3 separate regions of the Homo sapiens genome follow, and all the other regions are linked to region 2. Evidence: fine-mapped expression QTL. A gene starts in region 2. Each other region holds a variant in brackets. All regions are shown on one strand. Distances are from middle to middle. Region 1 overlaps SPATS2L (spermatogenesis associated serine rich 2 like). Region 2 holds the start of SPATS2L (spermatogenesis associated serine rich 2 like). Region 3 holds the start of LOC101927741 (a long non-coding RNA gene).

The links. PIP is the estimated chance that this variant, and not a neighbour inherited with it, causes the effect.
Region 1: its variant is fine-mapped to the expression of SPATS2L in lymphoblastoid cells (GEUVADIS, PIP 0.93).
Region 3: its variant is fine-mapped to the expression of SPATS2L in whole blood (INTERVAL, PIP 0.98).

What each region holds. Positions count from the first base shown.
Region 1 is chr2:200,451,449-200,454,205 of GRCh38, forward strand. All of the region lies in intron 8 of SPATS2L (spermatogenesis associated serine rich 2 like), which reads left to right. All of the region lies in intron 2 of LOC101927741 (a long non-coding RNA gene), which reads right to left. Among named protein-coding and RNA genes, the nearest start is that of KCTD18, 57 kb to the right of the region's middle. The variant TAA/T (reference allele first, on the strand shown) is at 1,444.
Region 2 is chr2:200,305,450-200,308,206 of GRCh38, forward strand. It overlaps SPATS2L (spermatogenesis associated serine rich 2 like), which reads left to right and starts at 1,244. Exons shown (of 13, transcript NM_001100423.2): 1 at 1,244-1,473. RefSeq lists an enhancer at 619-718 and silencers at 1,129-1,858, 1,879-2,208.
Region 3 is chr2:200,475,656-200,478,412 of GRCh38, forward strand. It overlaps SPATS2L (spermatogenesis associated serine rich 2 like), which reads left to right. Exons shown (of 13, transcript NM_001100423.2): 13 at 1,981-2,757. The coding sequence ends at 2,376. It overlaps LOC101927741 (a long non-coding RNA gene), which reads right to left and starts at 2,318. Exons shown (of 7, transcript XR_007088047.1): 1 at 1,890-2,318; 2 at 448-587. The variant A/G (reference allele first, on the strand shown) is at 1,595.

The DNA of each region.
Region 1 (2,757 bases), 150 kb after region 2:
GTATACTAAAGATGAGGAAAGCCTACTTAGAATAACAAGTGAGTACATAAAATTTAATATTGTATTCCTGCTCCATTTTGGAAGCCTGGACTAGGGTACGGCCTTACCATGGGCAATAACAACACCTGTGATTGTGGGGAAGAGCCTTCTAGGCCAAAAACAAGAAGAGCCCCTCCCCTCCCCTTTTCACATGAGAGCCTGCCTGGAGGCCAGGAGCAGAGGAGGCTAGGCCTGGCTGCCTTGGGTTGAATGTGGGCCAGCATTTCTGGCACTTCTTGTACTATATCAGTTTCTTCCAGTTTCTGTTCCTGTTATTTATGTTCAGCAACCATGATGGCATCTACATAAATGCCCTTCCCCTTGCCCCCACCGTTTTCTTTTTTCTTTTCTTTTTTTGGAAGGAAATACAACAGTGATCAGAGTGATTGGCTCTATTTTGTGCTTGAGACAAAGGGGCATTTTGCTTTATTTTGTTTTATTTTGAAATTTGTTTCATTTTATCCTGCTTTCTAATATTTTCCAGTTTTTTAGTAGAGATGGGGTTTCACCATGTTGGCCAGGCTGGTCTTGAACTCCTGACCTGAGGTGATCTGCCTGCCTCGCCCTCCCAAAGTGCTGGGATTATAGGCATGAGCCACCACGCCCGGCAGATGTAACTTTAAAAGGGGAAGCGGGGGAGTCAGCATTTTTATAGTCAAAGACACTGAAATACAGTCAAGTTACTTTCCCTGAATAGTGACCTCCATGAAAAGAAACTGAACTAATAAGTAATTAGCAAAGATAAAAATTTCTATTGTTCATCAAAGTCATATGTACAATTTCTAAACAGAGGAATATAGATTTTTCAGTTGAACATTTAATGTTGTGGGATTTCCATACTATGGGATTATGCTATTCTGTCATTTAAAAAATTCCAATAAGAAAAAGAAATCCCTGTATATTTTTTAATTAATTATGTCCTTTTTGAAGAACTCCAAAATATTACTAATGTTGAGAGTTAGTCCTTATACTAAATCTGTGTGTCTCATCCCAGAAATGCACCTCAGACAGTATGATGAACAATTTATTAACCATGATTTCAAATCATTGTATGATTCCAACATAAAATATGCAGACTAAACAATATTAACACATTGTATTGCCTCTCATAAAAGTAGTAGAAATAAAATGTCAGCCTGATTGGCAATTGAGTGTAGTCATTGATGTTCATTGACAGTCAGATGGATTTTGACTTTGCTTTGTATGTTGAGTGTGGTTCATGCTTGAGGCACCCCCACTCTATTTCCCGGATGAGCGTGATTAGTAGGCAGCCTTTCAAAGGGTTATGTGCTAACCCCAGTCTACATGCTGTGGACATGTATGCAGGGTTTTATATGTTTACCAAATAACACTGTTAAACCCAATAAATCTTTAGAAGGACCAATTTGTCACCAGTGCTGCATT[TAA/T]AAAAAAAAAAATCTATTATTATTTTTCAGTTTTGAAAAGAATTCAGGTTGTTATAAAACCTAAATGCAAATATATACAGAGTGGAAGGTGACAGACCCGGGAATTCCAGCAGTGTAACAATAAACAACAACAAATAGCCAAGGACTGGGTAATGTGCTCAGGGTTAAATAAGAGTCAGTGGAAGTGGAGAGGTGCATGGGACAGACAGACATTTCTGGGGTAGACTTCCAAGGATGTAACCATGTGGGAAGTGAAGGAAGAGGAGCCATGGACACTGGGTGAGAGATGACACCAGTAACCAGCATAGAGGGTGCAGGAGAGAGGACAGGATGGGGAGCAGAACAGCAAGGAAGAGCCGGGAATTGGCAGTGTGCAAGAACGTGAGTGCCCTTTACAGTTAGGGCTGCCAGGCCTCCTGACCCTGGGAATAAAGAACCGTACGGTCTTTCTGCATTTGTGGCTGTCAAGCCAGGGAAGCATCTTTGTTGACAGCTGCAACAAAGAAATTGAGAAATTGCAATTGAGAAATTGGTGAGCTGAAACCCCTGACTAGCTTTGCCCTGGGCCCAATAATTGCTGGTAATACTTGGGGAGTTGGACCAGAAATGGTACTCATGGGAACAGTACATTAGGCCTTAAATGTATAAAGGAAGTTTTCCTGCCTTGCAACTAGTGGGCAAAATTTAAGGGAAGGGACACAGATGCTCAGTGCTAGCTAGTACGGGGCAACTGTAGCTTGCCAGCTCAAGGCCCACGTGGTGGTCAGTGGGCACTACTAGGCTATCAGCCCAGCTGACATCCCTCTCAGGGGATGTTAGAACCGTTGGTCACAGTTCTTATTCCTTTGCATTAAGAAGCGGCAGAGCCCACAGTGGAGGGAGATGTTTTTATACCACTCTTTTCTTTTTAGTGAAAGAAATGGAAATTCTTTATGCAGGGAAGCCTGGCTGTAGGGCTTATCAGTCTTTGGCATGCTTTATGCTATTTGGTAGAGGCCAGGAAGGCTGAAATATTCATTAGCATTCATAGCATCCTTTCTCTCCAGCAGTTCCCACCTTCTCTTTCTACTGCATGCGCCTCCTGCTGGGCCTGCCTCCCTCCCCATGCTCCCATTCTGCAATTGTTGGCTTGGCGAATGATGAGTTAAGCTCCAGCTGAAGTACTTTCCCCACAAGAAGGTTCTGCAGCAAAATTGTCTGGGATCAGATGGTCCCCGGCAATTCCTCTCACTCTAGTCTCCCTGAGGCAAATGCATGGAAGATGGAATGTGGCCTGGTTTTAAATCTTTAACATCTAACTCTGGCTGTTGTT
Region 2 (2,757 bases):
ATATTATCCACACACCAATCCAAGGCGACTATAAGGTAGCAAGAACCACTCCAAGTCACATAAGAAAATGAATTCCTTTCGTTTTAGCTCCTCTCTTTATTTCAGCAGTGCGTTGTCAACAGGGCCACATTATGTTAGCAGATTTGAACTTTATCCGAAAGGTGTTTGTATTTTATTTCAAATTATGAATTCCTGAACATCGGATTATGTACGATTCTGCAGTGCCCTCGGAGGCCCATTAGAGTCTGGAGCTCGAGAAGCATAACAAACTCTGGTCTGATATTTGTAAGGAGCTTGACAGCCAAGGAGCCACTCAGAAACAGTTATTGGTATTGCCAAAAAAAAAAAAAAAAAAGGAAGCTAAGAAGTCACCCTTCTAAATAAATAAATAAATAAATAAATAAATAAAAACCTGAATTGGAGAGCTGCCTGCATTTCACTCTACTGCCTCTGGAAGAAGAGTGTTATCTAAAGTGCTTCCATCATGAATAATGATTGAGAAACTGCTTTTACTCTCCCGACTACTGTACTCCCAGGCAGAAACCCACGGCTGAAGCCCACGATGCCCATGTGTAACTTGGTTATTACACACACGTTTGGAGCCCAGTGTGCAGACCCGCAGCGCAGAGGAGGCGGCGGAACACCCCGGGTTGGTCGGGTTTCCAAGGGCTGACCCGAGCTCCAGCACTTTTTCCGCGCCTGATTTTTCAGGTCATTTTCGAATGGGCTATCTTTGCTTACATTTTGAGCTTGGATCCTCTCCAGAAAGCATTACTACCTTCTAAAAGGAAAAACATCTCGTATTTGCAGACAGTGCTGAGGGAGCAAAGTTCATTTTCTCGGGTAGGAGAAGATGATTCTCTTGCAACACGTGCGGATTGTGACAAAATCTTTCATTAACAAGGGGAGTTTCGGTGAAGTGGAGGTTTGGGGAAAGGCGAGGAAGTCGGTCTGGAGCAAGCAAGCAAAGTGCGGAAGCTGTACTGGGATTCTTCTAGAAAGTGGGGTGGGAAAGGAGCTAGGGAGGGCGTGTGGAGGGACGAGATCTGTGTCAGAACGTGCGTGTGAGCGGATACAAAACCCGAGAGAGGCGTGAGCAGCGCTGTGTTTGCGAGCGGGAGCGAGGGGCGCCGGCTGGGGTGTGTGCTCCTGGTGAGTGACACCGAGGGGAAGGCGGGCGGGTCGGCGGGCGGGGGCAGCCTGCGAGGGGCGGGAGTGTCCCTGCGTGGGGCGGCCGAGCCGGAGTTGTGTCAGTGAAGGAATCCAGTCCGGGGGCCGAGCTGGCTGCGCCCTCCGCTGCAAGCGCCGGCAGCGCGGGGCGAGCTCCGGACGGCGCGCGGCCCAGGCAGCGGCTCCCGCTCGGCCCGCCCTCCGAGCCGCAGGGGCCGCCACCGCCGCGGCGCCTCCCCTGGCGACCGCGCCCCCGGGCCCCGGCTCCGGCCCGGGACGGAGGAGCCGGCGCTCGACACAGAGGTAAGCCCAGGACCCCCTCCACGCCGGGCCGGCTGGGGATGCAGGGCGCGGGCGGACGCGGAGGGGCCTGCGCGGCCGGGACGGAGACTCGGCTGGGCCGAGCATTCCGCAGCCCGGGCCGCCCAGCCTCCGCCGCCTCCCGGAGCGCTGGGTGTGGCCCGCGCTCGGCGCCGAGGCGGGCTGGTGGCGCGGACCGGACGCGAAGGTCGCCGTCCTTCCTTTCTCCAGCCGGCGCGGGCAAGCGGGAGGAGGCGCCGGCTGGGACGCACAGTGGCGCTCCCCGGGCGAGCGTGTGGCCGCCGCGCTCCGACGTGTACCCGCCCGCCCCGGATCTGAATCGCCCGCGGCCGCCGTCCCTCGCCTGCCGTCCTCCCGCGCGGGCGCCCCCGTTCCCTCCCAAGCCGGAAAGAGACCCACCGTCCCCCAGGCTGCTCTCTGGCCCGGAGCCGCAAAGCCCACGTCAGCCGCGACCACCCCGCCCTCGGATCCCAGCCGGGTGCGGGGGCCGCGGCCCCACTGAACCCCGCGCCCCTGGCGCCCAGCGGGAGTGGGATGCGTTGGCGTCCGCGCTGCGCGGGTGGGCTGGGGTGGCCGGAGCAGACGCGGAGCGCCCTGGCCGCGGGACGAAGCGGTCGCGCCGCCGCATTTGGGCGGGGGGACCCCGGAGTCCGCGGGCTGCGGACCCCAGCGGGAGACGGGGTTGTCGTAGGATGCGCTCGCGCTGGACGCCGGCGCACTCTGAATATCATGCTGCCGCACACGCGGGGCTGAAGGGCCGAGTCTTCACCTGCGCGGGGATGCGGCGGAAGCGTCGCGTCTTCGCGAGTGGAGGTTTCGTGTTCCCGCGGGGTTGGTGTGTTTTTGAACTTCACGAGCTTCTCATCCCCCCCGCAATCCTGGTTTTAGCAGATGTCGGGGTTTTGGAGACCTGACACTTTTCGTGAAAGATTCTTTCTGTACGTTTTCTTTTGGCTATATTACAGGGTTTGTAGCTTGAGAACTAGTGAAAACCCTTGAACTTCAAACACAGTCTCATTGCTTATTTTTTGAAATTTAAATATTAAAATATGTACCAGCCCCCTCACAAGCCGACAGACTTTAAGACAAACGACTGTGAAATTTTAGAACCTGTGCAGAGAAAGTGGTTTTATACCAGTACTTGAAATAGTAAGGTCGTGTAACCTTTTTAACATCGTTTTAGTTTGTCTTAAAGGAAGGTTTCAGCACCACTTTGACTGGTACTGTTTTCCAGAGTTTAAGCAGATGTATGTAATATAGCAGGGA
Region 3 (2,757 bases), 170 kb after region 2:
GATTTGGGGGCCCCAAGATTTATTTTCCTTTAACAGATGTATGGACCTACATTTGTACTCTTGCTCTAGGCTCTGAATTATTGGGGGTTGGTCTGCCCTAAACCTATACCATCCAGTCACAGTGCACAAATGAAGAACCTTATATATTTGTAACTCATAAAATTTCATGTTTTCTTAAGAGGTTTGATTTTCAAAAAAGGTTTATGTTTATGTTACAACTTAAGAGTCTTGTCAGGAGATAGTATATAAAGCGGGAATAGCTCCACCATTTCCCAACTGTAGATAGACCTTGGGCAAGTCCCTGAAACTCCTTATCCTCATCTATAAAACGAAGCACATAATAGCAACTAACTTAAAGGGTGATTCTGATGTTAAATGAGGTAGTGCATGGTGAGAAACCCCATTCAGTGCATGGTAAGCACTCAATGAGTGTTGGCTATTACTGACCTTGAGGAGTTCAGAAATCTTTCCCTTGTAAAGGAGCTTAATCCATTGCGTCCTTACTGCTCATCCATTTACGTTCCTGGTCAGTGATGTGTTGAAGGAATGATTTTTTAATAGAGGCTTCAAATTTTCTTTGCTTATAACTGCAGAAAGTTTAGAAAAACAATGAATTACCTCTGTGAAAATACACCTTATTTCTGCATGCCACCAAGACCTGCCAGATACACTTCACCCCTATATTTGTCCAAGATAATATTTCTGAACTATAAAGATATTTGTTTTGGAATAAATTAGAAAAGCTACTTTAGAGAAGAAAAGTTACAGAATTTTACTTTTTCTTCACTTACGTAATTAGAATTCCTATGCATGGTTTTGAACAGGAAATTTTCCTTGACCCCTTCACAGGCCTTGCAACAGGGGTGCCTCACTTTCTCAGCCTGAAGCTCTGAACCCCTCGGGGGAGGGAGAGCATGCAGGTGAGCAGGTGCAGGAGCTAGAGCAAGCACTTTTGGCCACCGGCAGGATCAAAACTCCATGCAGTCCCACAGCAGTGCCTAGGGTAGTACCCATGACCCCTGGAGCCCCAGAGGGCATGCGTTACAATGCTCTTTTAGCTTTGCAGTCCAAGGACGGCTTAAGTATTTAACAGCTCAATAGACCTTCTACTTTTTCATGAAGGCAGAGGGTCAATGTGACACTTTTCTGTATCCTGAGCTCTTGTCCAGCATCCATGAAAAATCAGGTCATATGAACAAATTGAAGGATAGTAAACGCGGGGGATTTTATTGCCATTGAAAGTGGCTCTCAGCAGGAGGGAGAGAGCTGGAAAATGGGGATGGAGTGGGAACGTATTCTTCCCCTGAAGTACTGCCATCAAGCAGTCCCGCTAAAGTCAAGCTGCTGCTCTCCGACTCAGACTGCAGTCTCCGACGTGCAGCTGCTTCTCCTCTTCTCTGCTCTGTGCCAGTGGAGCCTGGGATTTTTATGGGTACAGGATACGGGGTGGGGTAGGCCAGGGGTGGTTTTGGAAAAGGCAATATTTGAGCAGGAAAACAGGAATGTAAAGTTCTCACTTTGGGCTTGAGAGTGGGTCTTGGCCAGGGACCCTGCCCTTTTTCTGTGTACAATTTCTGTGCCTCCTGTCCCTCTC[A/G]GTCTCTACAGAATGTCTCAGAAATCTCCATAGTAGAGGATCATCATTACTCTGCCCCTGGCTTCTGTTTTATTCTGCTATAGTTTAAGCATCTTTATGAATTTTATTTGACCCAGTTTTTGAATTGTCTGTCTTACACTTCTGTAACCTCTCTTTCAATATCATTTTCTTCCAGTTCCATTTACAAAACAGTCCACTATTCTTTTAGGATTAATAATTTTATCTGCCTGACCTCATCTTCATGTTTTCTGATTCTTCTGGTGTATAAAAAAAAAAAAAAAAAAAAAAAGCTTACCTGTGGCTTAGAGATTTGGTTTTCCTGATGTCTACTGGTGTCATCAGTGGCTTGCTGGCATCTGATACTTATCTCTTTTCTTTTTTGGTAGAATGGATCTTCTAACCAAAGACGGAGATTTAATCCACAGTATCATAACAACAGGCTAAATGGGCCTGCCAAGTCGCAGGGCAGTGGGAATGAAGCCGAGCCACTGGGAAAGGGCAACAGCCGCCACGAACACAGAAGACAGCCGCACAACGGCTTCCGGCCCAAAAACAAAGGCGGTGCCAAAAATCAAGAGGCTTCCTTGGGGATGAAGACCCCCGAGGCCCCGGCCCATTCTGAAAAGCCCCGGCGAAGGCAGCACGCTGCAGACACCTCGGAGGCCAGGCCCTTCCGGGGTAGTGTCGGTAGGGTTTCACAGTGCAATCTCTGCCCCACGAGAATAGAAGTTTCCACAGATGCAGCAGTTCTCTCAGTCCCGGCTGTGACGTTGGTGGCCTGAGCTAGGAGGAAAAAGAGCAGTTTTCACTCAGTTTTGGTTCCCTGCCCGAGGTGCTGACCCAATTCGCTGCCAAAAGAGTGTCAATCAGAATATACAAATCCCGTATGGTTGTGTCATCCTCTCTTAATCATTTTTACTAATTCTAATAATCAGCTCTAGCTTGCTTCATAATTTTCATGGCTTTGCTTGATCTGTTGATGCTTTCTCTCATCAAGACTTTGCAGCATTTTAGCCAGGCAGTATTTACTCATTATTAGGAAAATCAAGATGTGGCTGAAGATCAGAGGCTCAGTTAGCAACCTGTGTTGTAGCAGTGATGTCAGTCCATTGATTGTCTTTAGAGAGTTAATGTTACAAAAAAGAATTCTTAATAATCAGACA